7 linked regions of the Homo sapiens genome follow. The protein of the gene in region 2 interacts with the protein of the main gene of each other region in a pairwise test. Each region holds a gene or a part of one and is shown on either strand. Other genes may lie near its edges. The genes, in order: DEXI, BMP10, SLC10A1, KIR3DL1, FCRL4, MS4A3 and TNFSF8.

Region 1 (4,630 bases), on a different chromosome or scaffold from region 2:
ATGGACACTAATGCCATTCACCGCAAGCAGGCTGAGTCCACCCCTCTCCTGCATTACCTGGCTTTGCCAAGACAACCACAGGCAGAGGGTGTCTTAGTTCAGTCTGCTATAACAGAACACCATAGGCTGGGGGACTTAAACATTTATCTCTTACTGTTCTTATAAGGGCATTAATCCCACCCATGAAGGCTCTGCCTTCGTGACCTAATCACCTCCCTAAGGCCGCACCCCGCAATACCATCATTTGGGATCAGAGTTTCAACATATGAAGTTTGAGGAGACACAAACATTGAGTCTGTTGCAGATGGTGGTACAGGGTGGGGTAGGACCTACTGACAGCATAGCTGGCGGCAGAGGGCTCTCCTAATGGGTTCACAGTGAGATTTCTTTGAAGAAAAAGCTTCAGTTGAGCTCAGTAACATCTTAGCGAGAACCAAGTGCCAGGGGGAGTGTGTGCCAGGTGCTCTGCACACCTCCCCAGCCTGCCTGCCTGCCTGCCATCCATCCGTCCGTTCTTTTACAGAATGAATGCTTGTTGGTTCAGTACAGTGCCTGGTGATTGAACACAGTGAACAAGACAGACCAAGCCTTGGCCCTTTGGCACTTGGTGAGGAAGACTAGTAGGAACCCAAACAAGAGAATCAGATTTTTTCGGAACTATGAAGGCAGGCAAGAAGGACATGAGCTTCCCTGTTGTGTTCACTGCCATGTCCTCAACACTTAAAACTGTGCCTGGCCTCTAGTAGACGGTCTCTGTAGGTGTAGACATGGAGTGAAACAGAAGTGAAACGGTAGGATAGAGATGGTGGGCTGCTTTAGCTGAGGGGTCAGAGAAAGCCTCTCTAAGGAGATGATGCTTTTGAGCTGAGCCTTAATTTGATAGAAGGATCTGGAGAAAAGCAGTCCAGGCTGAGGGAATCAGTGGTGCCAAGACCTTCAGGTGAGAGAGAGTTGGTTTTTCCGCAACCAAAAGGAGGCCCATGTGGCTGGAGAACAGCCCCAGGAAAGGTCAGTGAGGTGGGTGGGAGCCATACCATGGAGGACCTGGAAGGCCATAGCCAAGAGCAGTGGAAAGCCATTGGAAGGTTCTAGGCAGGAGATGACACAATCCCATTCCCATTTTGCAAAAATGACTCTGGCAATTGTGGACAGAATGAGCTGAGGGGTAAGAGGGGAAGCAGGGCCACCACCTCAGATGCTGTTAGTTGTCCAGGCCAGAGGTGACAGAGGCTTGGATGAGGGGAGTTTAGTGAAGATAGAGAAACATGAACAGACTGAGAACAACTCTCAAAAGTAGAACCTATGGAATCCATTCAAAATCTGTACTGAGCATTGATTGTATCGCACTCCTGTGTCTAGGCCCTTTGCATATGCACTCACTCATTCAACAGACTTTGACCCTGCCTGCTCTTCTGCCAGGCCGTGTGCTAAGGGCCTGCGATCCCAAGATAAATCCCTGTCTCCAAGCCAAGCATTTGACTTTGAAGCAGTGTAACTTGGTGAGGAACGTCTTATTTTATCTCTTTACCACATCAACAGAAACACTTCCCCTTCCAAATGAAAACATTGGCATATTCTGAACTAAAAACTGAATCCCAAATGCTTCGACATATTTTGCAGCAAACGCTGTTTAAGCAGAAACACCAGGAAATATCTCTCAGGGACACCCTTGCAAAGCTCTCGGGGTGTCAGGGCCTGACCCTGGGAAGTGGGGAGGCCTGGAGAAGTGGTGGAAGCCATGCACAGCCTTCCCTCCTCCCCACCCTCAAATCCAAGCCAAGGAGGCCTTGCCCCCAAGTGCCGAGGAAGCTCAGAACCCCAGGGTATGAGAGGGGTAGCTAGCAGCAGGGAAGCCGCCAGGAAAGACCTCAAGATGATCTGACCGAGCCTCATCTCCAGGCCCCTTTCCATAAGCAGGGGAACGCCGGTAGTCAGTCCTGCTCTTTCTCAGCCATTCTCATGTGGTCACATGTGTTCCCCACACGCCAATCCAGGAAACAGTGACTAAGGGCGTGGAGCATGTCACACAGTGGGGCCCAGGATGAATCTCAAGATGAACAGGTGCACCTACTTTTGCTCCCTCTTTTTTTTTTTTTTCTCTTATGTGTGGACCCACATAATTCAGTTCCTCAAACATTTGCTGAGCACCTACTTGAGGAGGCAGTATTAGGGTCATGGTTAAGAGCCAGGGCCCTGGGTTCACATCCCAGGGTAGCTGTGACCTTGGGCATGCTGCTTAACCTCCCTGTACTTTGGTTTCCTCTTCTAGAAGATGGAAATAATGAAAATCTCCCTTGTTGTGAGGATTAGGTGAGATATACATAAAGCACTTAGATCTCCTTGTATATAGTAAGAGATGTATTAATATTAACCACTCATATTCATAGTCGGATACAATGGAAAGCGTGTTATACCCATGCCCTTGCAAATGTACAAACCTGCACCTATACTCATGCATGAATATTTATATCCTGTGAGCAGAAGAGGACAGGCTGCCTGAGTGCCAGGGAGGTCCAGGTCTAGCCTAGCTGGGGGAGACTTCCCACTCTGCCTTCCCAGCCCCAGGACCCTTAGGAGAACTTTCTTGCTGCCCTGTGGTCCCCAGGGCACCAGAACCCTGGATAGCCGGCTCTGTGGTTTTCCTAGAGTGTTAATTGTTGCCCAGGAGCAGGGAATGGGGAATCGGGAGCTCCCTCCTTCCCAGGAGAAAGGGCTGCAGTGGCTGGCCTGGGAGCCAGGGAGAGTCTTCACGTCCCAGCAGTTCTGGTGCAGAGGCAGCTCAGTTGGATTATTCGTCCCGGTTCCTAATGAAAGTGAAAGCTGCTGGTACCTGCCAGCCCTCTCTTGGCACACAGCGAGCTGAAAATGCAGAGACTGGAGAACGTTGCCACCAGAGTCAGCTTGTCCTGGTGCAGCTCAGATTTGGAGCTGAGGGTTATCGATGCATTGGTCTATCTTATTCCAGGATTTCCTAGGCTTCAGTTATCTCCCAACTAGGAACCACAGCTGCTCCTTCCTAACCTGGTCCCTCCTTGCCAATCTGTGGCCTGTGCTATCAGCAGAACCCCTGTGCCGGACATAGAGCTGCCCAGGTCAGAAACCCAAACCTTCCACAGGGACACAGTCAGATTTGAGTTATGGGAGATCCCACAGCCAGGGGTCAGGGCGGATGCAGGAAACCAGGCCAGGAAGCTGTGGCTGTCATCTAAGCAAGAGACAGACAATGGTGACACAGGGAGGCAAGTATACCCCCAGGCCTGGCCACCTCTCCAGCTCTGCTCCTGACATGAGGCTCACCCAGAAGGTCCTTGGCCATAGGGTACATTGGTGCCAGCTGCGTCTTCAGACAGGAGAAAACCCCAGTATGTGTCTCAAGACAGTGAGATGTCAAGAGTCCTGCTCTCTTAGCCCTGAATTATACAAACTGGAGATTTCAGCCAAGAAACAGGCAGGGTCTGCCCCACTTACAGCTCATGTGTCTGTTTTGCCGAACTAAGAAAGTGAGGGCTTCTCTCAATTTGGATATTCATATTTCTGGTTTATCTGCTAGCTTTCCTCCCAGAACTTCTGAAAGCATACTCGGCTTTTGGGAAACCTAAGATCACAATAAAAGTGGCAGACCTCTTTATCCCTGTCTCACAAATAAATGGAGGCACAGAATGGGGAAGTGGAGGCCGAGGGAACAAAGCCAACTAAGACTGCCAGCCCGGTTCCCTGGCCACAGCACTGAGGGTTTGAGGGGTGCCTCCAGTGAGGGCTCCCCATCCCCGACCTTGGAACACCAGCTCATAGTTTCTGCCAGGCCTATTTCATACGCACTCTTCCAACTTTTTCCTGAATTAAAAACAAACAAACAAACAAAAACCTCTGTTATGAAGTAATTTCACACTTACAGAAAAGTTGCAAGAGCACAAACAATGCCCGCCCAAACTCACCAGTTGCACCAGTTAGCACTTTGCTCATGTACACGTGCATGCTCTTCCCTCTGTTTGTATATGCATGCCTGTGTATATGCACACATGTGTATATGTGTAATTTTCATAAGCATTTGAAAATGGGTTCATTATGCACCTTTACTCCTAAATAATTCAGTATTTATTTCCTTAGAACAAGGACAAATTTGCATAACCACAGTAGGGTTGTCAAAATCAGCAAATCTAATATTGATACACTATACAATCCTATGACCAATCTCATCTACAACTTTATTCAAATTTTATAGAGGCTGAGGTGGAAGGATCACTTGAGTTTGAAACCAGCCTGGGCAACATAGTGAGACCCCGTCTCTACAAAAAGTAGGAAAAAAAAAATAGCGAGGTGTTGTGGTACACGCCCATAGTCCCAGTTACTCGGAAGGCTCAGGCAGGAGGATTGCTTGAGTCCGGGAGTTCAAGGCTGCAGTGAGTTATTATTCCACCACTGCACTCCAGCCTGGGTGACTGAGCGAGACCCTGTCTCAAAACGAAAAAAAAAAAAAATTGTCCCAGTAGTGTCCCTTAACAATAAAAAGGGGAGAGTTGAGGTCCAAGATGCAATCCCAGATCAGCTTTTGCATTAATCTCGAGCCTTCTTCAGTCTGGATCAGCTCTTCAGTCTGTCTTTCTCTCTTGTGACATTGACATATTAAGCA
Region 2 (4,630 bases):
CAAAGCTAGAGCCCATCTCCATCCTCTATTTAGACAAAGGCGTCGTCACCTACAAGTTTAAATACGAAGGCATGGCCGTCTCCGAATGTGGCTGTAGATAGAAGAAGAGTCCTATGGCTTATTTAATAACTGTAAATGTGTATATTTGGTGTTCCTATTTAATGAGATTATTTAATAAGGGTGTACAGTAATAGAGGCTTGCTGCCTTCAGGAAATGGACAGGTCAGTTTGTTGTAGGAAATGCATATTTTCCTCTCCAGTTAAGTCCCTTTCAATCTGTTTTCTCTTTGGACTTGCCATTTCCTGGCAATGCCACCTCCCTGTTGATTTGAAAACAACCCCTAGGCAAAATACAGTGTCAAAAGACACACACTTGTGTATGTATATTTGTACATACATGAACTTACAAAAATCTTTTGGTTCTATGCAGGCAGGTTATACTCATCTACATGCATGACTCACTCAAATGTATGCATATTAAAGGCCAATGGTATGTTCTCTGTTACCTCTTCTCTGAGTAGGATTTAAGTCAAGATAATTGACATCAGGGTTTTAATCATCCTAGGAAGTATTACCCTTCCTAAATACTCTGGAAATGTAAGTGTAGCTTTTGTCAGTTGAGTTTCTGTAGTTGCTCAGAGAGGAGGGGCCTGGCAAAGGATGCTTGAAGGGAAGGGTTAATTGATACAGAAACCAAATGGACTTAAGAGGTCTTAGAGGTACAACAGGAAAAAATGAACCCATGGAGGACCAATGTGCTCCAGAGGGCAACTCCTGGTCAAGGCAGGAAAACAGAAGAAACCAGCATGAAATCTGTTCCTGAGACAATAGGAAAGCAAGGCCATGAGTACTGGCCATTGCTGCTGCAGAGAGTAGAGGGGTTGGGAGGGTACTTGAAGGGGAGAAAGGGAGAAAGGGAAGAGGATATTGATGTTATCCTCAGAGGCTATCCTCAGATGTGTCTGTAAAACCAAAAGTGGTTCTGTTTAAAGAATTAAATCTTTTGGACAAAATAGAAGTATCAAAGACTAAGAGGAGGAAAATCAGAAGGGGTCTGTCTGTTGGAAGAAAGGATGTTAATATCTTTCTTCACCTGTTAACACTGTTCCCTTGTCTCAGCACCCCTGCTTTCCTCTGCTCCATCTTCTTCCTTCCCTCTTTCTTCTTGGCCCTAGTGCCTCTCACCTTCCTCCCATCCCTGTGTCCCTGCTCTTCCCTGGCCTTCATGATGCATGCTGTGAACTGGAAAGGGACACCTAAGTGCCTTTGCTCTCAGGGTGAAAGGAGTTAGTGTTCTAATTTCTAAATCTTCCCGTGATATTTAATTTGATTTTATTTTAATAATATCCTTTATCAAATGTTTTGTTCATGAAGAATACTTAGATATAAGAGAAAAGAAAACCAGAATAAGTAAGTATAAGAAAAAGAAAACCAGAGTCCAAATGAATGGATTTAAATAAACGAATTTATGAATAGACACACAAGCAAATGACTCAAAAGCCAAGCCTGAATTTTGAAATCATGATTGTTTCATGGTAGAAACCCAGTAACTTTCCCATCTTCTCATCTTACCATCTTCCCATTTTGCAACTGGCCAGGACTGAAAGTGGTGAGGAAGTGTTCTGCACAGGAAGGGTCCGGTGGGTTTTCCTGGCAGGTGGCAGCCTCCAGTCTTAACCCCTAACCATTTCCCTCTACCTGGCAAGCATATTCTGGGCTTTGTGCAGGAGGAACCAGAGCAGAGCAGAGCAGTTTCCAAACTGTTCCAGCATCTCCAGGCAGGGAACATGGATGGTTCCTGTTAGAACCAGGAATGTGGTTTCCAGTACGTCATCCCCCATTCACCCCTACTCATCTTAAGGAATGCTTCCTTAAGAAGTCTGACACTTTTTTCTTTTTTTTACCCTGGAAAACAATCAGTCCCCTTTTACAAATCTCTTAAGGTTATAAACTCAAACTGCACTAGACAATAGAGGCAAGGAAAACTATTTTGAAGAAGGCCCAATTTGAACCTCAGCTCGCTAGATCTGTTGTCTGCTGGGTGAATCCTGGGGAATTCATTGCTCATGGAAGAGTGGTGTTTTGACCGTCAGTGGGTATACAGTGATTGATGCTTTGAGAAAGCCATGCAACTCAGAATCACTATTTGTGGAACAGCCTCCATATAACATGATGTGTGTATGTGTGTGTGATGTATAGCTGGCTTTGAATAACCACGCTTAATACCCTCAGTGGAACGTGGTGCATCCTTCATACTCCATGGTACACAATGTATACTCACATACTCCAAGGTACTTCTTATCCTTTCTAAAGGACACTGTAATACATACACAGTAAAACCTCAGCTGACCAGGATAGTCCTGGTTAGATAAAAATTAAGCAAATTTTCTTTATGTCTAATACATATGACAGTGGTGTGCTGGTAAAACCCTTACAACCAGCAATCCAGGGGGAGAAAAAGCCCTGATTTGTGGATTTCAATGCTGCAAACGCTCCTACATGGTCTATCTTGAGCTGCCAAGGTGATGTCAACTGGCTTGCAAAACTTCTAAAACCTAAGTCAGCTCTTGGGAGCTGTGCACTGGTGCTGGCACACCGCTGACATTTAGTATCCCACTGACATTAGCACACCGCTGACATTAGCACCCTGATACTAGAATGTTAAGGATGTGCCAGCCCTGCTTTCCACTGTGTGCGCTGCTGGCTCCGGGCTTCTGGAGAAATCTTGTCTCGAGCACTTATAGTCACTCTTCTGTTAAAGAGATATGAAAATATAGGCTGTTGGCGATCAGGCTGCATAGCCCAGTTGTTTCTTTCTGCCCATCCAGATGTAAACCTGCATTTCTATGATTTTCTGCTTCCCTGTGGAAAGGGAGTGCAGAGAGCAACATATTGTTATTCAAATGTTGCTAGTTGTATTTTTTTGGCTTTTTGTCAGAAAGTGAAAAGACACAGCCCGTAGAGGAGTTCTCCCAGCTCCCACCGGAACCCCGGCAGCACACCGGTGTCACTTTCAACTCCTGCATTGACAGGAAGCCAGAATATTGTCAGATCCTTAAAAAGGTAGAATCTTACTAATGTTTCTCTGGTCATAGACCTTCTTCTGGGTCCCATGCCAGTTTTTTTCCCCCTTTTATTGCAGAATTATCATCACCGAAGTTGATATAGCTAAACAACTCTTGAGGAGAATTATAGCAGAGGGACTTGGGCAGCCCACAGCCAAAATATTCATGTAAGAGTTTCTAGGCTTCCCACTATTTATTGATTGATATATTTATTTTTGTAAAATATTGTAGAATACCAAATATTTTATTTTTATGTCTGTGATTCCCTTTTGGATAGAGAGTCTTCTGGGCTTCAGAGTATGGCTCACATATAATATATGGCCTGTATTTCCATCTCTCTCTTTTTGCATCAGAATATTCTATTGGTTTAAGGAATCTTGCCATAGCTTGCCATAATTTTGTATATTTGTGTCTTGCAGGCATGCTGTGCCTACAAGCATGCTTTGTAGTATATTTTCTGATTTGTAAATAGTACAGTTTTAACTGAAGTGTAGATGTTCCAGGAAATATTTAACCAATACATTGTCATGCAGTTTCATAAAGTGATGTTGTCAGTTTATCATGAGAAGCAAATATTGTCAGGCTGTGAGAGAATGTGATTGCTACTCAGTAAACGGAGATGCTATTTAAATGAATCTTTTCATCCCCCAAATCTGGTACTTCCCCTCTGAATTCACCTGTTGCCGTCACTGACCCAGAAATTCAGAGATGTGATTGGTCAAATTCATTTGTAATTGGACCAATTACTTTGTAAATGTCAAAAATGTTAGCTTAGTGATTTCCAAAAGAGTCAGCCCCAAAGTGCCGAATTCTTTCCTGATGTGTAAATTTTGGTCCGGGGAATTAATGACAAAAACCTTTTTTTTTTAAGAACTGTTACTAAATGTTTCAGTATTTGTTATGATTTATATTCTTCAAGTAAAAGATATTTTCATATAAGAGAATTTTATGTATTCTTCTTACTTGATTCATCAACAGATTATGAAGCCTAGCAGTGTTCTGGCAAAACCTTTTTAACTTGCCTAGAACACAGAAGGGATGTTGCCCTTTTTAAGGTTGTAGATCTTTTCAGAGTCACTGTGGGTCATTCTCAACCCTTTGCAGTTCTGCAAGCTCACATATGGTGCAAGAGGAAATGCTGGTATGACTCTGTGCATTTTCTTGCCCCCAAACAGGAACAGTTGATTTCCTACATTAAATGGAAGGTAGATGTGACTATGGAAGAGAAGTACACAGGGGTGTTTCTGCATGTGAAATATTTGTCATAAGTTAAAAACCCATCATGGAATAACTGTTTGTTGTGATCAGCATGTTTTTATCACACATGGGCACTGGTTTTGTGAGCACCTGGCTTGATAGTGGTGGGGCGGCCAATGTGCCAGCGCCCGCCTACTGAGCATTCATGGACATTGGAAATCAGCGAACACCACAGACACACCGAATCAGCTGATGCACGGTCATGTTCTGGGGTAAAACCTGTTCATTATCCATGTCCACATTTGTATAGTTATCACTAGACTAAAATGAAGATGGAAATAAATATTTTACCCTGTGTTCATGAACCA
Region 3 (4,630 bases), on a different chromosome or scaffold from region 2:
TCAGTGAAGTGTTACGTGAGGCTATTCAGGACTCCTGCAAAATGGATATTATTTAAAAGTCAAGTATTTTTGGAACTTATATACACATTCCTACAATACTGTCATTGTTCCACATACTTTGAAACTCATGAGAACTTGTCATACATATTTGTCTCAAATACCTTGATTACAGATAGGGATTTTATCCATTTTAGGATCAATTCTGGAAATTGCCAAGAGTCATTTGAAACAAAGCTGGTAAACAAGGTGGATGATCAAGCCCGGAAATACGGTTTTAAACCCAAAATGATGTCTAATAATAAGGGGACAAACCTACTTTCTTGAGTGACCTGCAAATTGAATATGAAGGAAGTTCCCAAAAGAACTTTCAGAAATATCTTGGGTGATAACAACATCATTGGAAACTATGCAGGTCTACTCTGAATGAAATTATAGGGTTTTTCATTGTGCAACATAGGATGCAACCTTTCAAAGTGCATGTGCACTCCATGCACTTTGTACTTTCCAGTGTGCATTTTAGAGAATTGCGTCCTCCAAAATGATAAACAGGTATGTGTAAATTTAAGACTGTCCCTTTTATCTCCTGAGTAAAGAAATACTTAACTTTTCTCAAACTTACCATGTTATTTTGTAATAGTTACATGTGTTGGTTCATTTTTTGGTTCATTCACATGTGTTGCATTTTATATTTCCTAGTAACATTTTAAAAAAGTAAAATATGTATAGCAAAGTTTGCCATTTTAATCACTTTTGAGTGTACAGTTCAGTGGCATTAAGTACATTCATAATGTCCTAACGACATTTTAACATTTATATTGCTCAAATTTCAGCTGCACAGCTTTGTGTTTCTGTTTTTAATACTTGTTGCAACTGATATGATCATATAAAACATCACCTATACCAATTAGTGGTCCTATCCCAGCATAGGAAGGACTTTCACACATCTCTTGAATAACCATGTGCTTCAAGTTTTATTAAAAGACTTATTAGCTAATGAACTTCTCAGTTTACCTTTGCATTTTTAGTTGATTTCCCCTTTTAGATTTCTGTCTTTCGAATTTGTCCTTTACCCAACAGTCAAATAATTTTTAATCTCTATCAAGAGTGGAGTGGATAATGTAGGAGACATTGAGTTACAGGAATTGTCCACGAATCCAGAAGCCCTCTTCTTCTGTATAGGCATTCACTCTTATTCTCTCACTCATGTTCTCTGACTCTTGGGGACTGCACAGTTGTGGTTATGAGCACATAATTTGATATGATCCTGGTGGGAAAGCTGCCTCTGCTAGTCTCCAGGTGTGTAAGCTCTGGGGAGTCACTCAACCTGAGTGAGGTTGACGGCATAGGACCTGGCATATAAGAACCGCTCACTAAACTGTAACTCCTGTTATTACTCAAAGGGGAGGAATTAACATTCTAGAGGTTCCTGTCACTCTCACTGCTGCCATCTCTGGAAATTTATCCTGTCTACAACCCCTGTCTCCTGCTGAGACAAGTGGCCCCGGGTAGTTGCTTCTCCATAGGCTACCACATTTTGTACCACCTGACTTCATTGCCCTGCTCACAACTGGGATGAGTGCTCATTCATGGGCAGCCAATCCATTGGCTTACACATGAGATGACATGTCCACAGTCTACCCACAAAGGTGGCCCGCACAGGCTGGTGAGTGGTAGAAATAATCAGATTCTCTCATTTAGGAAGTTTGCAGGATTACAGAGAGGGAAGCAATAGCAGGGACAAGTGTCAGAACAGAGGTCTGGGAGCAATAGCCACAAGTTGGCAGAAGTTGTAAGACAAAGGAGAGTTAGGGGTCAGTTCAGCAGTAGCAGCAGGTGTGGGAAATGCATGAGTAGAGTGTTGAGTCAATGAAATGGTGGGATCCTTATTAAAGAGTGGTGGATGGCTTATGGTGAAAGTGGCTCCTGGACCATGTCATTCTCAGATTCATCACCCTTTTAGCCACATAGCCTTTGGATAAACCCTTGCATGGGTAAGTTAAAAATTACTTGAATTGCCTTTTAAAATGAGCATGCCTGAAATTGTATCTTGGTATATCTAAATGTGACCTTCCACCAGCGAATGCAACTGGTTGAACCCGGTGTGAGCAGATACCTGCTGCCAGAGCTAGTTATTGAAAGTTGGGTTATTTTGATTTGCAAGGTCCAAGGAGGGTTATGTGTGCGTAAGAGGCTAGGACAATCATTTGTTCGTTTTCCAGTTTGGCACTCACTATATTATTTATGGGACAGGGTGACGAAGGATGAGCATAGTCCTCGAAGAGCCATAGAAGCAAGGAAACCTTAGCTTTTGCAGCTTGACCCACATGTTAGTCTCTGCATCCTCACAGGAGTGATTCCAGTTTTGGAATATAGGAAGATCAGTGTAGCTGTTGACTTTGTGGTGGTTTAACCCTGGAGGTTTAGCCAGGGGCAAAATGGGTCCAGGGCATGCCTGGGTTTTTTAGATTACCTTTTATGTAGTCCCTTATTACTAGTCTCTGTTTTTCCAGCCAAGGTATTTCTTAGCCCTTTTAATGTTCTCTGGCTTCATTTTGACTTCATTTCGTCTGTGGCATTGAGTAGTGAATGTGCAACACAACAGGAACAGACTGGTTGAAATAATCCTGGCTCTGCCAAGTAACTTTTCCGGGCCTCGGTTACTCTATCTGCAAATTGGGAATAAGGCAGGAGACTGAACTTCATCTTAAAGGCTTCTCCAGCTTTAAGATCTGAGATTCTCGGCAAGGTGTGGTGGCTCACGCCTGTAATCCCAGCACTTCGGGAGGCCAAGGCGGGGAGATCACAAGGTCGGGAGATCGGGACCATCCTGGCTAACACGGTGAAACCCCGTCTTTACTAAAAAATACAAAAAATTATCCGGGTATGGTGGCGGGCGCCTGTAGTCCCAGCTACTCAGGAGGCTGAGGCAGGAGAATGGTGTGAACTCGGGAGGTGGAGCTTGCAGTGAGCCGAGCTCGCGCCACTGCACTCCAACCTGGGCGACAGAGTGAGACTCCGTCTCGAAAAAAAAAAAAAAAAAGGGTCTGAGATTCTGCTTTTTGCAACCTCAGAGAAACACTTTTAAAGCTACTCTGAGGTAGAAAAGAGACATGTTCTCACATCAGTTGTCATTAGCACTATGACTTGGTATTCTGTTTCCCAGTTTTCCCACCTATAAAATGGAGGAGGGCAGAGTAGCATTAAATGATAGCAGTGGTCACTTCACATTTTAATATTCTTTATATTTTATATGCATTTCTTTAAGATCGTTTATGGGTGTATAGGATTTTTTAAAAAAGCAATCTTATGCACCCCACAAACTATCTTAAAAAAATGAAATGATGCACACAAACATGTTTCTCTGTGTATGTTGTTTTTCTGCTGGTGTGTGGAAGAGCAGCAGACAGGACTTGCCCTTCATTCCTTTATTTATTCTCAGGCATTAGCTATGGGGGCACTGTGATAGGTGCTGTGGATTCAGTGTTAATTAAGACAGCCTTATGGTCTTGCTTCTTGATAAATGAGTGGGGAATAAAAATGAACAGATGTTCTTAATGCAGTGTAATAATTGCTACAGGGGTTAGCTGGAGTGTTGGGTGTTATGGGAGTGAATAGGACAAGCATCTTACTCAGGCTTAGGAGGTTAAGGAAGGCTTCCTGGGGGAGGCGCTATTTGTGTTGAGACTTAAAGGATGAGTGGGAGTGATCCAGTGAAAGATGGTGAGTGGGGTGAGAATTGGGAAGAAGAGTGTTCCAGGTGAAGAGAAGGGCACGTGCAAAGAGAAAAGAGCTGAGACTGGTGAGGTCAGTTGAAACCAAATCAAGAAGTGCCACATTAAGGAGTTTAAACTATCCTAGGGGGAAGGAGTCAATGAGAGGCTTTAAGCAGTGGAGTGACATGATAGAGTTTGTACTTCACATCTTCACCCTCAGGTTAGAACTGGGTGAGGAGGTTGGATGAGAAGGCCATTTGAGTTGTCTAGTGAGAGGTAAGGATAGAGAGGAATGAATGGATTCCAGCAACAGAAGGTGGAATCGACAGTCATTGATTAGATGGGTGTGAGTGGTGAGGGAGAAGGGAACATTGAGAATGACTTCCAGTTTCTGGTTGGGGCAACTGGGCACACACACAGTGCCACCGACTGAGATAACCACATGGGGAGGAGATGACTTTAACATATATTGAGTTTTAAATGTCTGAGGTATATTCAGATAGAAAGACCTGGTAGATAATAAATGGATTCTGGAGTGAGGATAGAGTTGACATCTGATGATGCTGTTCTGGAAGTCTCGGTTTGCAGATGGTAATTGCAGACCTGAGAGGGACCAGATCCTGTGCTGGGAGAGGTCTGGTGAGAAAGGCAGAAAGCTTGGTCTGAATGCAGAGAAGTGCCTTTGACCAGAGGAACTCATAAGGGAGTCTGAAGGTCATGAGAGGTAGGAGGAAAGCAGCAGAGCTTAGAGTCACTAAAGCTGACAGAGAAGGCTTTTGAGGAGGCAGTGGTCAATTATGTCCAATGCTGCTAGAAGGTCAAGGAAGGATTGAGAAATGTCCATTGGATTTGGCAAAGAAAGTGGAGCAGGTGGTCATCAAGATGCTGGGTGGATGGGAGACCAAGGAGAGAAGAGA
Region 4 (3,536 bases), on a different chromosome or scaffold from region 2:
ACAGGAGGACAGGTGGTATTGAAGCAATAGATAGTCGAGGGGGTGGTCCTTCCCCCAGCCTCTGAGGTAGAACAGCAGCCTAACATGTGTCTCCCGAGATCACAAAGAGTAGCACATTTCACACGGGCTTCAACACTATTTTCTGGCTGTTTGACATAAGAGAATTCTACTTCGCTTTTTTTATATTGATTTCACTTTTGTTTCCTTTTCTTGGAGAATGCAAGTTGTTTAACTCAAGAATGCCGTGGATGTAGAAATCCTAAAGCACATTCGCTGTGTATCAATCCCAGTCCAGTCTTCCCAGAGAAGACTCTAAACACCTCCTGGACTGCACCTGGGCCTATGCCAATTCCTATCACTCACCGTCACTCCAGGGAGACAGAACACACAGAGAATACGTTACATAGGCAGGTTCATTACTAACAGATAAGCAGCGAGTGACAACAGAAGCCTACATTTCAATGTGAGCCAGTTCCCCAAGGCTCAGAAAAGCTGCTCGAGACATGTGGAGTCACCCCATTTGCAGTGTAGCTGGGGGAAGCCAGAAAGCAGCCCAGCCTGGGTTTTGTACCCTGGAGCCACAGGAAGCACTCAGCTAAAGCACTGCATGACGTCCTCCTCCAGGAAGAACAGGAAGACAGCCCAGGCTGTTCTGGGACAATCCTCCTGATCTCAGGACTTTGCTGTCTTAGTCCATTTTTGTTGCTCTAAAGGAACACTTGAGCCTGGGTAACTTCTAAAGAAGAGATTGGTTTGCCTCACCGTTCTGCAGGCTGTACTGGAAGCATGGCACCAGCATCTATTTCTTATGATGGCCTCAGGCCGCTCCCACTCTGGCAGAAGGGAAGGAGGGTCTGTCTGTGCAGAGACCACAGAGATCACACGGCAAGAGAGGGAGCAAGGGGGAGGGGGAGCAATGGAGCTTCCAAGCTCTTTTTAACAACCAGCTCTCCAGGAACTAATAGAGAGGGAACTTGCTAACCCCGTCTCCTTGGGACAGCATTGATCTGTTCATGATGGATCCACCTCCATGACCCAAACACCTCCCAAGAGGCCCAACCTCCCACACTGGGGGTTAAATTTCAATGTGAGGTTTGAAGGGGTCAAACATCTCAACTAAAGTAGTTGTATCCTCAGCACGTTCCATGGTTACTATGAGAGCTATAACTGAGAAAGCAGGAGGAAGCTAGATCTCCCGCCATCTGGGTGCTTGTCCGAAAGAGATGCTGTAAGTGGTTACCTGTCAATCAAGAAATGCAAGACAATTCATATAGAGAAACTGCTATGATTAGCTTCTTACTGGTGTCTCCTCTTCTTCCAGGTAACCCCAGACACCTGCACATTCTGATTGGGACCTCAGTGGTCATCATCCTCTTCATCCTCCTCCTCTTCTTTCTCCTTCATCTCTGGTGCTCCAACAAAAAAAGTAAGTCTCACGGGGCACAGGCCAGAGAGCTCAGGGCCATGTGGGGAAGCAGGATGGGAGCACACAGCTGTGTGTTCCTCACTGGCAGGATGGTCCCTGGCCCAAGACAGGAGCCACAGAGGCAGGACTTTCTAGAGAGAGCACCAGACTCCCTGCCCCTGCCTTCAGCTCACAGACCGTTGCCTGATTCTGAACTGTATCCTCATGTCCCCTGCAGCCACTCACATCCAGGAGAAGGTTCCATGACAGGCAGAAAGTGGGAGACAGAATCAATGGGATGGGAACTCAGAGCTATTCATGGGATGGGTCCTTGAGCTCAGAGAGATAGAATGTCTGAGTCTGCTGTTGGCAACTGAGGGACCTCAGGCACCTATGGCCTCCCCCTGTTTGTTGGTATCTGCTTATGAAATGAGGACCCAGAAGTGCCCTCCGAGCTCTTTTGTTGACTTCCGTCTCCTACAGATGCTGCTGTAATGGACCAAGAGCCTGCAGGGAACAGAACAGCCAACAGCGAGGTAGGTGCTCCTCGGCCCAGCCTCGTGGCTAGTGTTATTCCCAAACAGTCCTGGAAAACGTGAGCACCCTCCCTCACTCAGCATTTCCCTCCCTCACTCAGCATTTCCCTCTCTCCAGGACTCTGATGAACAAGACCCTGAGGAGGTGACATACGCACAGTTGGATCACTGCGTTTTCACACAGAGAAAAATCACTCGCCCTTCTCAGAGGCCCAAGACACCCCCTACAGATACCATCTTGTACACGGAACTTCCAAATGCTAAGCCCAGATCCAAAGTTGTCTCCTGCCCATGAGCACCACAGTCAGGCCTTGAGGACGTCTTCTAGGGAGACAACAGCCCTGTCTCAAAACCGAGTTGCCAGCTCCCATGTACCAGCAGCTGGAATCTGAAGGCGTGAGTCTTCATCTTAGGGCATCGCTCCTCCTCACGCCACAAATCTGGTGCCTCTCTCTTGCTTACAAATGTCTAGGTCCCCACTGCCTGCTGGAAAGAAAACACACTCCTTTGCTTAGCCCACAGTTCTCCATTTCACTTGACCCCTGCCCACCTCTCCAACCTAACTGGCTTACTTCCTAGTCTACTTGAGGCTGCAATCACACTGAGGAACTCACAATTCCAAACATACAAGAGGCTCCCTCTTGACGTGGCACTTACCCACGTGCTGTTCCACCTTCCCTCATGCTGTTTCACCTTTCTTCGGACTATTTTCCAGCCTTCTGTCAGCAGTGAAACTTATAAAATTTTTTGTGATTTCAATGTAGCTGTCTCCTCTTCAAATAAACATGTCTGCCCTCATTGCTTCAGGTAATGTGACACTGTATTCGCTGAAAGAAACCGCTGTTATCATTACCATGTCCACATAACCCCATCTGTTCTCCGCTGGGTTCTCACCCCTGGACTCTGAGCTTCTGGAAGCAGGGTGGAGCCTCATTTGTCTCTGGGACTCCAATTTCCATCCAAAGATGCAGCACATAGGAGGTTCCAAGGATCGTGAATCACATGAACAAGTGATATTCTTACTCTCTGCAACCTGGAAAGCTGGCAGAGTCATTCCACGATGAAACATTTGTAGAGTCATAAGCCTTGCTAGTCTCATCTCCACGGGGACACATATCAACACATCATATTTCATACTATAAATATACAGTCGCTCCTCCATATCTGTGGGGTTTACAGGTGTTTATTGAACCAAGTGTAAATCAAAAATATTCAGAGAAAATGTCCACAAAGTTTCAAAATGCAAAACTATGTTGAATGGACACAAATGAGGCAGTGTGTAGGCTGTATCAGGAATTATAAGTAATCAAGAGATGATTTCATGTATACAGGAGGATGTGCATGGGTTATATCCAAATGCTGTGTCATTTTATGTAAGAGGCTTGAGCATCTGCAGATTTTGGTACCTGAGTGGAGATCCTGAAACCAATCACCCACGAATAGTAAAGGATGACCGTATATGACTTTTATTTCTCAATTTTAAATATAAATCATAAAAAATGTACAATAACTAGATAAAAAGTAAGAAGTGTTTTTATAGTGTGAGAATAAGTTTAGATTTATTTTTTCCTACGTGTAACCCTTTGGTTTAATAT
Region 5 (4,630 bases), on a different chromosome or scaffold from region 2:
TACTAATGATCTCCATATTTCTAAGGCCAGTGGAAAACTGTTCCCATTTGATTTGACCTACCTCCAGCTTTTGATACAATTGATCCCTCCCTCCTTCTTGAAACATTTTCCTGCTCAATTTCTGGGACATAACCTGTTAGTATTCTATCTATTCAGCAGATACTTTTTTAAAGTTTTCTTTCCAGATCCTTATAATATTTCCAACTTCTAAATTTTGGGGACTGCTCCCCAAAAACAGCTGCACTGTTTATACAAAGTCAGCTCTGACGGTCAAAGCCATAAACCTGAACAGTTTAGTCAGAGGCTCCAGCAAGGGGTTGCTATGCGAATGGCCCAGATGCGGCTCAACTTTCCCTTCAACTCCCTTGAGGCAAGTCTTATGATCAAGCAGGGCCCACCAGGTTAAGAGACTGAGGTGTTTCCCCAGAACTAAGTACCACAGCAATCTGCATCTCAGTCTGGGAACATCACTGGGTGTAATTCCCAGCAGAGAAGGACTGAGACTGAGCTAATGTCATTTCAATGACTTTTTTTTTTTTTTAAGATGGGGTCTCTCTCTGTTGTCCAGAGTGGAGTTCAGTGGCGTGATCTTGGCTCACTGCAGCCTTGACCTTCTGGGTTCAAGCGATCCTCCCACCTCAGCCTCTCAAATAGCTGGGACTACAGGCATGTGCCACCATGGCCAGCTATTTTTTTTTTAATTTATTTTTCATAGAGAAAGGTTCTCACTACGTTGCCCAGTCTGGTCTTGAATTCCAGGGCTCAATGGCATTTCAAGAATCAGATTAGGGGAGAGGAAGAAGGGATTAGCAAAACTGCAAGCTGCCAAGGGCTCCCTCGAAAGACTCCTGAATGCCCTGAAATCCAGAGTAACACTGATGGTAGAGGGTGTTTCTTCTGCAGGAAGGCTCTTATTCTGAAAAGTTTACCTCAGGAAGTTCAAAGATTATAATCTCTGAGGAGATAACAGTGAATCTGTTGGTAAGTATAAATTATTCCTCTTCCTTTTGGGGGTTAAGATCATCAGAATGGATCAGCTTCTCCTGATCCAGGCAGTGAACTGGCCACTTCACATGTATCATTTCATTTTATTCTCATGACAGCCCTGGAAAGCAGGTGTCAACATCTGTTAAGGAAACAGATGATCTCAAAGATTAAACAAACGTCAAGGATCCAGTGATGTTTGCTGGAATAGGGATTCCCTCCTAAATATTTTTTAATCATGGACTTTATGCAAAATCCCCGTGCTTAGAAATAGGAGAATATATAGCAAAGAGAGAAACTCTGCAGTAGCCTCATGCACTGGGCTAAGGTGGGCTGTCTCAGGCAGCTTGAACTGCCATAACCAAACACCAGGGACTGGGGAGCTTAAAAAACAGAAATCTATTTCCTCATAGTTCTGGAGGCTGGAAGTCTGGGATTAGTGCACTAATATAATTTGGATTCTTGTGAGGGCTCTCTTTCTGGCTTACAGAAGGCTACCTGCTTGCTGTGTCCTTACATGGCAGAGAGAGAGAGCAGCACAACCTTTCTGGTGTTTCTTCTTAGAAGGGCACTAATCCTATCTTTGGGGCCCCACCCTCATGATTTCATCTAAATCTGATTACCTCTCAAAGGCCCTGTCTCCAAATACCATCACATTGGGGTTAGAGCTTCAGCGTATGAATCTGGGGGAGAAGGGCACAAATCAATCCATAGCATGGACTGAGGATGTCTGGGGTAGGGCTGTGTGGGAGCAGGCTTAACCTATGGAGGTGTCCTCTAAGCTAATCAGAGAGCAGCCTGAATTTCCTGAGAGTCTAGGGCATGGTGTCAGGACCACAAAATATGAACTAGTATTTCCCTAGACGTAACACTTAAGTGGCAGGCACTGTTCAAAGCACTTTACATGTATTAACTCATTTACAACAGTAAATAGGAAACTGAGGCAAAGGGAGATTAAATAATTTTCCCTGCCCACACAGTGAGTAAGTTGAGGAGCTGGGATTCTAATCCAACAACCTGGATTTAGAATCTGTGCCTTTCTAACTGAGACAAAATTTCAATTACTTTCCCCAAAGTAGCCATTTCTTTTAGGAAATAGGGTTACCAGGAAGGTAGAGTAACTTGCTTTCTGCCCTTTGAGTCTAGAATCCTAGGCCTGGGTGTGGCTGATTCTGATTTTGCACCGGCGGATGCCCCAGCAGGCAATGGGGAAAGATTCAATACAGGATGTAGTGGCCAAGCCTCTCTGTCCTTAGATTTCTGTCCTGCTCTCCACCGTACTCTTTCAGCTGTTGTGGCTGGGAAGCTGGGCTGGCTGTCCACTGAATACTGTTTATTAGTGGAACCACTCATAGGTCAAAGGGCAGGTTTGTTGATATTGTTGAGGAGGGAAGGATAATATCAGAAATGTCACCAGCCACTCCTAGCCAATGGCTCCTCTGTGCCCAAAATCATAGATGAAAATAAACGGAAATCATGATCAGTGTTGCTGTTGTTCTACTACCTGCATGTTCTCTGTCAATTCTGTGGTACCTGTGTCTGAGGTCTGAATTTGGTTTACCTGGGGACCAAGAATACATATGGGAAAGTACCACGCCCCACTCTCCACTCTCTGTCCCTCTGTCATGCTTTTTGCTCTTTAGCGCATCACTACAGGGCACGGTATAAATTTATTTATTTGTTTATGGCTTGTCTCCCCTCCCTGGGTTATAAACTCAAGAGCCGGGACTTTAACGTCTTGTTCACTCTTGGGTCTTCAAGGGTTAGGTCAATGCCCAGCACAGGGCAGCCTCAGTAAATATTTGTTGTATAAATAAGTAAATTGAATGAAACCTCCTTTTCCGTGGATGAAAGGATAGGAGAACGGACCCCATGGAAATATCAAAAGCCCCTAACAATTTATTGATTATGTGTACTTTTCCATCCGTTTTTTTCTCTCCTGCCCTTCAGAGCACACAGGCACAGGCTTCTATGAGGAAGGAGGCTGATGCCATTTCATCGTGGTGTCCCAATGCGGAGCAATCTCAGAGTTACTGTTGGTTCAACTGGTGCCATAATCAGTGGTGCAATTTTCATTCTCTCTCAGGCAGTTTGCTGTTCCTAAGTTAGGTGCTGCCAAGCCATGATCCCACAGTATCTCTCCAGGTGTCTGGGGGCAATTTGCAGGAAGCCAGCTTACCAGAATACAACATTAGGATTTCCCCTAAATTGTTAGTTTCTAAAATGATTCACTGAAGGTAGAGGGAGCTGCTGTTTCCTCTTGCACTCAGGCCCTGGCCCACCCAATGTGAGCTTTTCTGGCCAAAACCTGGCCCAAGATGTCTTTATGAGACCTAGTCCTTTAGATTTTTCTCTCTTCCAGGGCTCGTTACCCAACCAAGCTGAGGAAAAGGCAATCCCAAACCCTGAACCTCTCCACTGAGATTCACACAGGTCCTTTCCCCTTAGAGACCCCAGGCAACAGAGATGGCCTTGTCGCCGCGGGAGCCACTGGAGGGCTGCTCAGTGCTCTTCTCCTGGCTGTGGCCCTGCTGTTTCACTGCTGGCGTCGGAGGAAGTCAGGTTTGTGCTCTTTTCTTTGCCACAGTTCCTGCCCTGTTCCTTCCCCTGAACTCAGCATGCAGACAGCCTTAGTGGCCACCAGGCCACCACTCCCAAGTCTCCACTCCCAAGTCTCCACTCCCAGCGTTCACACACACTCACGTCCGTCCCTTCCTTAAGGGGCAGTTTTGCAAACAGAAGCCATGAATGAGAGCTGCTCATATCTAGTCTGATTGGCTAAGTCTCAGTGAAGGGGAGGAAGAGTGAAATTTTTAATGTAAAGTTCCAAAAACTTTATCTGAACAGTTTACTTAGGCAGTTTCTTTGGTTCATATAGACTGGCCAGTTAGATACTTCAGCCTATCCTAAATCCACCATAAATGGAGATTCAGAATGAACTAAAGGCTCTGCAGAAATGATTGAGAATAAGAGCTGGCTAATTTTATCCTTCTGTCCCCTCAGGGGCTTTTCTGGGTCTGGCTTTTCAGGGGCTTTTCTGAGCAGGCTTGAGCCTGCCATCTGGTGCTCCAGTGGCCCCTCTCTCCTCAGGTCAGCCTCCCCTGCCTCTTGGAGATGGTCTGTCCCAGGCACTGTTTGCTGCGTGCTTCCAAAGACTTCTTGCCTCAGCCCACCTCAGGCTGGCTTTAGATGCCAAGAAACCTGGTGTAGAAGACAGGAGCAGAACCTTTTTCAGCTCTAGAATAATTACCCACATCCTTCAACTCTGTCTCTTAATTCAATTCAACTTTCCAGATTCCTGACAGCACCTTCTGTGTGTCCTGCATTGAACTGGAGGTAGGGAGCTTTGGACCTCTGACCAATTCTCCTTAGTGGGGCTGAGTCAGAGCCCAGTGCTCCTCTGGGCATGGCCACAGATGTTCCTCGAAGTTCACCCACAGCTCACTACTCTCCAAGTGACACTTTTGTTATATGTAATGTTTCCTGAGGGATTTCAACACAGACTTGAGTCTTAATAAATTCTCAGACAATTACATACTTAACTCAGGAGTGTGCAGTCCTGGCCTCAAAAAGTTATATGCTTTGTACAATCTTTTTTTCACCTCATTTTCATGAAAACCCAGGACTGGGCAGGTGTTTGAATTGA
Region 6 (4,630 bases), on a different chromosome or scaffold from region 2:
CCTGAATGCAGCAATGATTCTGGCTTTGGGTGTCTTTCTGGGTTCCTTGCAATACCCATACCACTTCCAAAAGCACTTCTTTTTCTTCACCTTCTACACAGGCTACCCGATTTGGGGTGCTGTGTTTGTGAGTATTCGTACTCCCCTGGCTATATGTTATTTCTTAGATACCACTGCTGGAGATGTGTTTGATGACAAAAATATTGTTTGTAGGTTATTGGAAGGTTGCATGCTGTGGTTTTGATTTGCAATTCTTGATATAAACAATTAGAGACGATAAACTCTTTTTTATTTTTTAATTTAATTAATTACTTAATTAATTTATTTTTTGAGACAAAGTCTCGATCTGCCATCCAGGCTGGAGTGCAGTGGCATGATCTCTGCCCACTGAAACCCTCTGCCTCCCCAGTTCAAGTGATTCTCTTGCCTCAGTCTCCTGAGTGGCTGGGATTACAGGCATGCACCACCATGCCCACCTAATTTTTGTTTTTGTATTTTTAGTAGAGACAGGGATTCACCATGTTTTCCAGGATGGTCTCGAACTCCTGACCACAAGTGGTCCTCCCAGCTTGGCCTCCCAAAATGCTGGAATTGCCAGGCATGAGCCCTGATGCCAGGCCAAAAATCTCTTTCTGATTAAGAGAAACCACATTTGCCAAGTACAAATGAAGTCCTAAAAATTATCTTATATATAACTATATGTTACATTTATAGATACTTAAAAAATTGAATGAAAAATGGGTATTGATGAATTGCCTTGTGGTACAGCAGAGAGTCCTGGCTTGAGAGTTAAGAAATTTGTCTGCTGATTACTGTCTGAAAGTCAGAAGAATCATTTCCATTATCTGGGTCAACATTCAATCAGAAGAAATAGGGGTGATTTTAAAATGTATTCATTCAGTTTTGATTATTTATTACTTCCCTGATGGTTCATTTTTAAAAAGTGAATGATATGTTTGTTGGCCATTTGTATATCTTCTTTTGAGAATTGTCTATTCATGTCCTTAGCCCATTTTTTGATGGGATTGTTTGTTTATTTCTTGGTGATTTGTTTGGGTTCATTGCAGATTCTGGATATTAGTCCTTTGTTAGATGTATAGATTGTGAAGATTTTCTCCCACTCTATGGGTTGTCTGTTTACTCTGCTGACTGTTCCTTTTGCCGTGCAAAAGCTCCTTAGTTTAATTAGGTCCCAGCTATTTATCTTTGATTTTATTGCATTTGTTTTTGGCTTCTTCGTCATTAAATCCTTGCATAAGCCATTATCCTAAGTGAAGTAACTCAGGAGTGGAAAATCAAACATCATATGTTCTCACTTATAAGCGGGAGCTAAGCTATGAGGATGCAAAGGCATAAGAATGACACAATGGACTTTGGGGACTCAGGGGGAAAGGTGGGAAGGAGGTGAGGGATAAAAGGCTACAAATTGTGTGCAGTGTATACTGTTTGGGTGATGGGTGCACCAAAATCTCACAAATTACCACTAAAGAACTTATCCATGTAACCAAACACCACCTGTTCCCCAATAACGTATGGAAATAAAAAAAATTTAAAAAATAAAATGAATAAAACTAATTGCATGGAAAGACTAAATAAATAAATAAATAAATAAATAAATAAATAAAGTGAGCAGCATCAAGTACAATTCTGTGTCCTAGGATGTGAATTTAAAAGGGAGGTTTGTATGACTATTGCTGGATATCTGCTAATTGAGGGAGGACCAAGAAGAAAATGGTTGAGACTTAATATTCCTTTATCTGTTTTCCTTCCTATTTTCAAACAGTTCTGTAGTTCAGGAACCTTGTCTGTTGTAGCAGGGATAAAACCCACAAGAACATGGGTAAGTAGCACTTCCTCTTTTTCTATGATCAGAGGAGTAGAAATATATTATTCATAAACAGTAGGACAGTAAGTGTCCATGAATACAACTGAGACACTGAGTATCATTTAATGCACAAAATATTAGTTTTCTTAACGTGTTCAGATGGTAGGTCAGCAGATCACATACATTGTGAGGATGCATTCCTGGGATGCTTGCTCTTAATATTGGTGAACTTGAAGCTTAGAAAAAGTCTTCTTGATTTTTATGTGTTGTCAAGTTTGACCAATTCTAATTATTTGGAAGTAAGAACTCCCACCACTAACTAGTTTGACAACTGAAAGTCCAAACTTCTATTCTAAACAACTGCTAAGTCTCTATGATGTGTTCTTAGTGAGTCACGTAGCCACTGATACTCCACTTTCCTACTCCATTCATTCACTTTCCCTCCTCCATGGATAGCTATTTTACCATTTTATTGTATCCTCAAACACCAATCCCACTTCTGTCATCCTTACTCTCTGCTGATGATTTTTCTGTCTCTTCTGAGAAAACTGAAGCCATTAGAAGGGAATTTTCAGACCTCCACTACTAATGGACTAGATCTGTACCAATGTATTTTTTTCTTCTAGCCTCTTACCATAGGAAAATTTTGTGATTTTCTTTAAAGCTGATCTCCCTACTTGAGTATAAGATTCCATTCTTTTTTTCCCCACACAAGTGCATCACTTTAATTTTTGTCTCTCTGCTATATATATATTTTTCGAGTCTCACTCTGTCACCCAGATGGGAGTGCAGTGGTGTGGTCACAGCTCACTACAGCCTCCACCTTCCAGGGCTCATGCAATCCTCCCACCTCAGCCTCTCACATAGCTGGGACTACAGGTGTGTGCCACCATCCCTGGCTAATTTTTGTCTTTTTTTTTTTTTTTTTTGTAGAGACAGGATCTTGCCATGTTGCCCAGGCTGGTCTCAAAATCTTGGGCTCAAGCAGTCCTCCTGCCTCAGCCTCCCAAAAGGCTGGGGTTACAGGCGTGAGTTACCTTGCCCCATCTCTAATCAGCATGTAAACATCCAGTTACTGTTCTCAACTTAAAAACAAAACAAAACAAAACAAAACAAGAAAACCTTGACATTATTTCTCCCTGCTAGGGACAGGCACAATTTGTATTTTCCTTCTGTAGCTAAACTCCTTCAAAGGAATCATCATGTTCTTTCTCTGATTTCCATCTACCGGTTTGAATCAAACCCACTTCAATAAGACTTTATTTTATTCCCTACTATCCTTCTGTAACTGCTGTCTTTAAGATCACTGAAAACTTCCACCCTGCTAAAACAACGGTCAACTCTTGTTCCTCATCTAACTTAAGCTATGAGTAGCATTTAGCATAGTTAGTCGCCCACTCCTCCTTCCAGGAATTTCCTCACTTGGCTTCCAGCATACATTGCTTGGCTGGTTTTCCTCCCATCTTTTGCTTTCTCCATCTCAGTCTCCTTTCCTGGTTCCTCTCCTTGTCTCTGACCTTTTAATGTTCTGGTGCCCCAGAGCTGAATTCTTTGCCACCTGCTCTTCTCAATCTATACGTACTTCTTCTGTGATCTCACACATTCTTATGACTTCAAGTAATATCTGTATGCCCACAACCCTGAAATAAGTATTTCCAGCCCAGGTGTCTCTCCTGATCATCAGACTGGCATGTAAAGATCCAAAGCTCAACTCCCAGTCTTCTTCCTCAAACCTTCTCCTCATGTCAGCTGATGGGAATGTCATCCTTCCAGATTCCCAGACCAAACACCTTAGAATAACCAAGAGTCTTCTTTCTTTCACAATCCTGAATCCTATTTATCAGCAAATAATGTTGGCTCTACTTTCAAGCTATTATTATATCCAGTTTTGACCTTTTCTTATCTTTCTATTGATGACATTTCATCCAATCCACCTTGTCTCTCCTAATTGGGCTTCTAGCTTTTATCGTTGAACTTCTCTTTGCCTTGCTAGAAACAGTGATCCCTTGAAACCATAAAGCCAAGTATATCATTTATTTGCTCCAAATCCTTCATTGGCTTTGTATTTTTCTTAGAGTTAGAAACAAGTTCCTTTTCATGATCTGCAGAGCCCCACATGATTTGGCTCTCTGTTAACTTTCCTTCTTCTTCATTTCCTAGTATTGACTACGTGCCTCCAACGCCCTTGACCCCTTTGCTGCCCCAGAAGATTCTGGCCTCAGGATTTTGAGTGTTTCCCTAATTTCAAGGATATTCCCCCAGATATCCTCCTGGCTGGCACCCACAGCTCTTTCATGCCTCTCCCCAGTGTCATTTCTATTTAATATCATGAACCCCCACTCCTCTCTTTGGATTCCCAGATTCTCCTTATCCCATTCTGTTAGCCCCTAGTACTTAATCACTTTCAAAAATATTATGTAATTTACCTATAGTATGTTTACTTTTTTCTTTGTTTTTATTGCTAGAATATAAGCTCCATGGAGGGTGGGGGACAGAAATCTTTCTTTGGTCATTGATGTTAGCCTCGCATCTAGGATATCAGTGGGTGTGTAAACAATATTCAATCAATGTTTGTTTCAATGAATTGTTGCCAAAGGAATGAAGTACGTGCTGCATATATTAATTGAAAATTCTTATTCTTTTTTAGATACAGAACAGTTTTGGAATGAACATTGCCAGTGCTACAATTGCACTAGTGGGGACTGCTTTTCTCTCACTAAATATAGCAGTTAATATCCAGTCATTAAGGAGTTGTCACTCTTCATCAGAGTCACCGGACCTATGCAATTACATGGGCTCCATATC
Region 7 (4,630 bases), on a different chromosome or scaffold from region 2:
GGAGCAGAGAGGGAACAGGGCTTGAACTACGTCACCCTGAGAAAGTGGTAGAGCCAATACTGCTTGATTGCTTGATGCAAGCAGCATCCCCTTTGCCAATACAGACAGCCACAGAAGCACTAAGAAACATTGCACCCACTCTTCTCTTGGGAGCTTTATCTTCTTGTGCATCCACTTCCTTGACTTACCCCTCATGTTTGGATATGAAAAGATTCACTGTGCAATCTGATTGTACAGTGCGGTGTGCTGTGATTTCTTAGACCAGGAAATATCAGTTGCTTCCTTAAAATTAAGGCTTGCCATGTTAATAGTAGCCGTGGTATATAAAGTGTCAAATGCATTGCACATATCATTTTCAATAAATTCCTCAGACCTTAACTGTTGTAAGACCTAACAAGAAAAAAAAAAGCATCATTTTCCCATTAACTTGAGTTATCAGGAAGGGTTTCCTATAGGAAGATGGAATGTAGACTGACTTGAAAACAGGAAGAACTCAGACAAGTGAAGAGACTCTAAAAGAAACTCTAGGAAAGAAATCAATGGGAGAAAGCCAAGGAGCTTAGACTCACATCACCATTATTAAAAATGGAATGAGTTAATGGTCAATTAGCACTCTGTATGTGATGGGAACAGGGGTGGAGAACCATAAGAATGGTTTTACTGGCACAAGAAGTCACACAATTCTTATCCCAAGGCACGTGTATAGACAAAATTTAAAACAGCTAAGTCATAACATATAATGAGTGATTAAAGGGATACCATGACACCACAAGTTAAGGAGAGAATATATTTTTCCAGACAGGTTTAAGAAAAACTCCTGGGGATTAGTTTCAGGTTGGCTTGAGAAATGTGAACAATTTCAAACAGGCAGGGAAGGGAAAGCAGAGGAGAGGCACTCCTAGCCAATGGAACAGCATGAGCAAAGAGACAGAGGAGAGAAGACAGAGAAAGTGTAGGGAAATCAACAAAGCTTGCCTTGAGGTTTGACTTGAAGATCAGATAACTCCAAGCTTAAACTCCTTGGGAGAGACAAAGGAGGAACTTAGGTTTCTATCTCAAATATTTATTAAATATCTACTGTGTGCAGGACATTGTTCTAAAGCCTTGAAAAAAAACAACAAAATCCCTGTCTTTGAGTTACTATGGAACTTACTTCTTTCCTGTGATATTTTTGAAGCCTCAGTGGTGGTTGTATTTTGTTTTATTTACATTTAAGCCAGCATATTTATAAAATAAATACTATTTTATATAATAATATTACTTTATATTATAAAATAAACATTTTATATTATAAATATATTATAAAATAAACATTTTATATTATAAATATATTATAAAATAAACATTTTATGTTATAAATATATTATAAAATAAACATTTTATATTATAAATATTATATTATAAAATAATATTTTATGTTATTTAATATTTTATAATATATTGATATATTTTATAATATTTATATTAGGAAATACTATACTTACATGGTTTAAGAAAAGTAACTAGCAAATAAGAGAAAAGAAAGTAAAAATCTTCACACCTTCCCCACCCAACCACTAATCCCTCTTCACGGAGATAACCACCATTGACAGATTCTTGTGTGTCCTTCCAAAAATCTGTGCATCTACAAATACACAGTACACATTATAATATATAATAAACCCATGGGTCATTATAATAAACCCATAATTTTGCATCTTGCTTTATTCACTTGACAACACACTGTATATCTTAGAGATCCTTCCATGTCAGTACATAGAAGTTCATTTCATTCTTTTGAAGAGTCGCATAGTACGAAGTGTAAATGCTTCATAATTTATCTGTGCCTGGTGAGAGACATCAATGTTTTCTCTAGAATTTGTGCCCTCTGTGCGTGTCTGCAAGTATATCTGGGGAATAAATTTTTAGTGATAGGAATGGAATGTGCATTTTCTTTTTTTCTTTTTTTGGAGACAGTCTCGCTCTGTCGCCCAGGCTGGAGTGCAGTGGCGCGATCTCTGCTCACTGCAAGCTCCGCCTCCCGGATTCCCCCCATTCTCCTGCCTCAGTCTCCCGAGTAGCTGGAACTACAGGTGCCCGCCACCACGCCTGGCTAATTTTTTTGTATTTTTAGTAGAGACGGGGTTTCACCGTGTTAGCCAGGAGGAATGTGCATTTTCGCTTCAATAAATGTCAGTCTGTCTCCAAAGAGATTGTACTAGTGTACCCCTGAGGAATTAAAAGTCCTACCAACAGACACTTCTTTACATCAATATGGAAAGAAAAAAATGATTTACTGTTGAGCAAGCACAATTGTACATGCAAATAGGCAGCCTGCAACAGACTACAAAGTCAGGATGAAATTTCACACAATTAATCTAGCAAAGCAAAAGAAGAAAAAATAAAACTTCTCTTATCTCCTCAAGAGACAGGGGAATACATAATGAGATAGACAATGAGATAGACTCCTAGGTTAACACCACAGGTAGGTGTTTACATTTCAAAAAGCCTCTGAAGCCCTCAACCTTAGAGACGTCTTTGTTTTGTAAACCAGGAGACTGGGCTTCTCTAGCCCCAGGGGAGAATGTAAAGGGTTACATTCCAAAAGGTTGGAGTATAGGGTTCACAATCGGTAGGCTTTCAAGAAAGAAGCTGCCTCTTTTCCCTTTATAAGCAAAAAAAATTCTTTTTTTAAAAATAATAATAATAATACTCTTTTTAAATTATCTCCACACCAACAGTGGAGCTGAGCACCTGTTTAAGGGGAGTAATTATTGGTGGTGGTGATGGTGGTGTGGTATTTTGGGTTTATTTTTAAGCTCAGATACAAAATAGAAGTGTAGGGTAAACACACCTGATATAGCAATAACTGAAGCATACCCTTAGAATAACCACATATGGCAGACACGTCTGAATGGGTGTTCCAAGCTAGAGAGTCCAGGAGTGGTCAACCTGGAGACTCATTCCTTGTCTGTGAGGAACATCTGAGCCCCCAGCCCATCCCGTGGAACATGGGCCATACAGGAGATTGAGGCCTGAGTTTTTGGTTACATGAAGGCTGCCAGGTGGAGGCCATTAAGGGGAGGCTGTTAAGTGAGCATGCTATAGAAACTGCATGCTATTTGCAAGTGGTTGTGGTTTTCCTGCCCAACCCACCACCACTGGACGGTATATAAGGTGAATATGTTGTCCAGCCTGCTGCCATGAGATCATTTCTGTCCGTAAAGCAGTTTTCCTGTTCAGCTCACTGCCACTGGACTCTCTCCCCTGTATGTAAGCCCCCAATAAAACCCCACATCTTGTTTGCTGACTCTACACCTCTTCTTTAGCCTCTTGAACATGGTGCCTTCCCTGTTGAGCTAATAGGAGTTCGGCACAAGAAGAAGTTATTTGGAATGCCCCATGACACTTCCCACTACCCAAGGTACTCCCTCCACCTGACATTCATTCCATTTAGCAATCCAGAAAAATCCACTGTAAATCTTCCCAGGAGCGAGCCCTGTGTGAGGTTATGTGGGGAGGTCCCCAGTGGAAGGGGCAAGACCCTGTCTTCTGGGAACTCTGTTAAATTGAGCAGATGAAGCCCAAACACCAAGTTCTTGGGTTCCGGGCAGAATGGCACAGAATGCCACAGAGCAAAGGAGAAGTCATTTCTGCTTGGGATGAAGGAGGAGTTTGTAGAAGAGCTAGAACAAAAGCCAGGCTTCCAAGAATTACAACAGTCATGGCTTATTCCCAAAGTCTTATTTTGAAAATGTTCAAACCTACAGAAAAGTGGAATGGCAAATGCTAATATAACCTTGGCACCTAGATTGCTGTGTCAATATCTTGCTGTATTTTTGCTCTCTCTATATAAGGATATGAAAGTAAGCTGGAGGCAGCATGACCTTTCACTCACATGTACTTCAGTACCCATCTCTTAACTAACTGCAATGCCATTATCATTGCCAAGAGAGTTAATATTAATTCAATAATATCATCTAATAATAATATATGGTCCATATTTTAATTTCTTTACTTGTTCAAAAATGTCTTATAGGTATGGCTGTTGTGTTTTTGTTTGTTTGAACCAATCTAGGGTCACATACTGTGTTATGATAATATCTGTTTTAATCTAGAACTTTGCTTTTTAAAGTGTGGTCCTGGGCCTTGTTAGAAATTCAAAATCTCAGGGCTCACCCCAGATCTCCTGAATCCGAATCTGCATTTTAACAAGCTCCTCAGGTGATCTGTATGCACATTAAAGTTTGAGAAGCACCGAGCTAAAATCTCCTTTGCCCTTTGGTGTTTGTTTTAAATAACATTGACCTTTTTTTAAAGGGTCCAGGCCAATTCTGTTGTAGAAATCCATTCATAGCCTGGATTTGTCTTAGTATTAACTCATGGTTATACTCAGATGAAACATTTTTAGTAAGAATAGTATATAGGTAATTCTATATACGTCTTATTGTAGCACAGCTAGAGACATATGTCAGGTTGTCCCATTTTTTTTGACTATAGGTTTAGTCACTTGATTAAAGCGGTGACCACCAACTATCGCCTTTGTAAAACATTTTTTCTTTCTCATTAACAAGTAATCTGGCCAGGAGCAGTGGCTCATGCCTGTAATCCCAACACTTTGGGAGGCAAAGGTGTGTGGATCACTTGAGGC

Evidence for each region.
Region 1: the proteins of BMP10 (region 2) and DEXI interact in binary tests that used the Homo sapiens proteins (3 or more experiments, as listed by UniProt).
Region 3: the proteins of BMP10 (region 2) and SLC10A1 interact in binary tests that used the Homo sapiens proteins (3 or more experiments, as listed by UniProt).
Region 4: the proteins of BMP10 (region 2) and KIR3DL1 interact in binary tests that used the Homo sapiens proteins (3 or more experiments, as listed by UniProt).
Region 5: the proteins of BMP10 (region 2) and FCRL4 interact in binary tests that used the Homo sapiens proteins (3 or more experiments, as listed by UniProt).
Region 6: the proteins of BMP10 (region 2) and MS4A3 interact in binary tests that used the Homo sapiens proteins (3 or more experiments, as listed by UniProt).
Region 7: the proteins of BMP10 (region 2) and TNFSF8 interact in binary tests that used the Homo sapiens proteins (3 or more experiments, as listed by UniProt).

The regions. Positions count from the first base shown.
Region 1 is NC_000016.10:10,935,837-10,940,466, reverse strand, and holds part of DEXI (dexamethasone-induced protein), read left to right. Parts: intron 1-2,345; exon of another isoform or gene 2,346-3,834; intron 3,835-4,072; exon of another isoform or gene 4,073-4,630.
Region 2 is NC_000002.12:68,861,102-68,865,731, reverse strand, and holds part of BMP10 (bone morphogenetic protein 10 preproprotein), read left to right. Parts: coding exon 1-101; 3' UTR 102-4,630. UniProt on the Homo sapiens protein: Required for maintaining the proliferative activity of embryonic cardiomyocytes by preventing premature activation of the negative cell cycle regulator CDKN1C/p57KIP and maintaining the required expression levels of cardiogenic factors such as MEF2C and NKX2-5.
Region 3 is NC_000014.9:69,779,786-69,784,415, forward strand, and holds part of SLC10A1 (hepatic sodium/bile acid cotransporter), read right to left. Parts: intron 1-4,630. UniProt on the Homo sapiens protein: As a major transporter of conjugated bile salts from plasma into the hepatocyte, it plays a key role in the enterohepatic circulation of bile salts necessary for the solubilization and absorption of dietary fat and fat-soluble vitamins.
Region 4 is NC_000019.10:54,828,040-54,831,575, forward strand, and holds the end of KIR3DL1 (killer cell immunoglobulin-like receptor 3DL1 isoform 1 precursor), read left to right. Parts: intron 1-1,321; coding exon 1,322-1,426; intron 1,427-1,888; coding exon 1,889-1,941; intron 1,942-2,059; coding exon 2,060-2,236; 3' UTR 2,237-2,739; downstream 2,740-3,536. UniProt on the Homo sapiens protein: Receptor on natural killer (NK) cells for HLA Bw4 allele. Inhibits the activity of NK cells thus preventing cell lysis.
Region 5 is NC_000001.11:157,580,447-157,585,076, reverse strand, and holds part of FCRL4 (Fc receptor-like protein 4 precursor), read left to right. Parts: intron 1-3,432; coding exon 3,433-3,546; intron 3,547-4,630. UniProt on the Homo sapiens protein: May function as an inhibitor of the B-cell receptor signaling. May function in the B-cell-mediated immune response.
Region 6 is NC_000011.10:60,062,479-60,067,108, forward strand, and holds part of MS4A3 (membrane-spanning 4-domains subfamily A member 3), read left to right. Parts: coding exon 1-127; intron 128-1,783; coding exon 1,784-1,840; intron 1,841-4,472; coding exon 4,473-4,630. UniProt on the Homo sapiens protein: Hematopoietic modulator for the G1-S cell cycle transition. Modulates the level of phosphorylation of cyclin-dependent kinase 2 (CDK2) through its direct binding to cyclin-dependent kinase inhibitor 3 (CDKN3/KAP).
Region 7 is NC_000009.12:114,923,747-114,928,376, reverse strand, and holds part of TNFSF8 (tumor necrosis factor ligand superfamily member 8), read left to right. Parts: intron 1-4,630.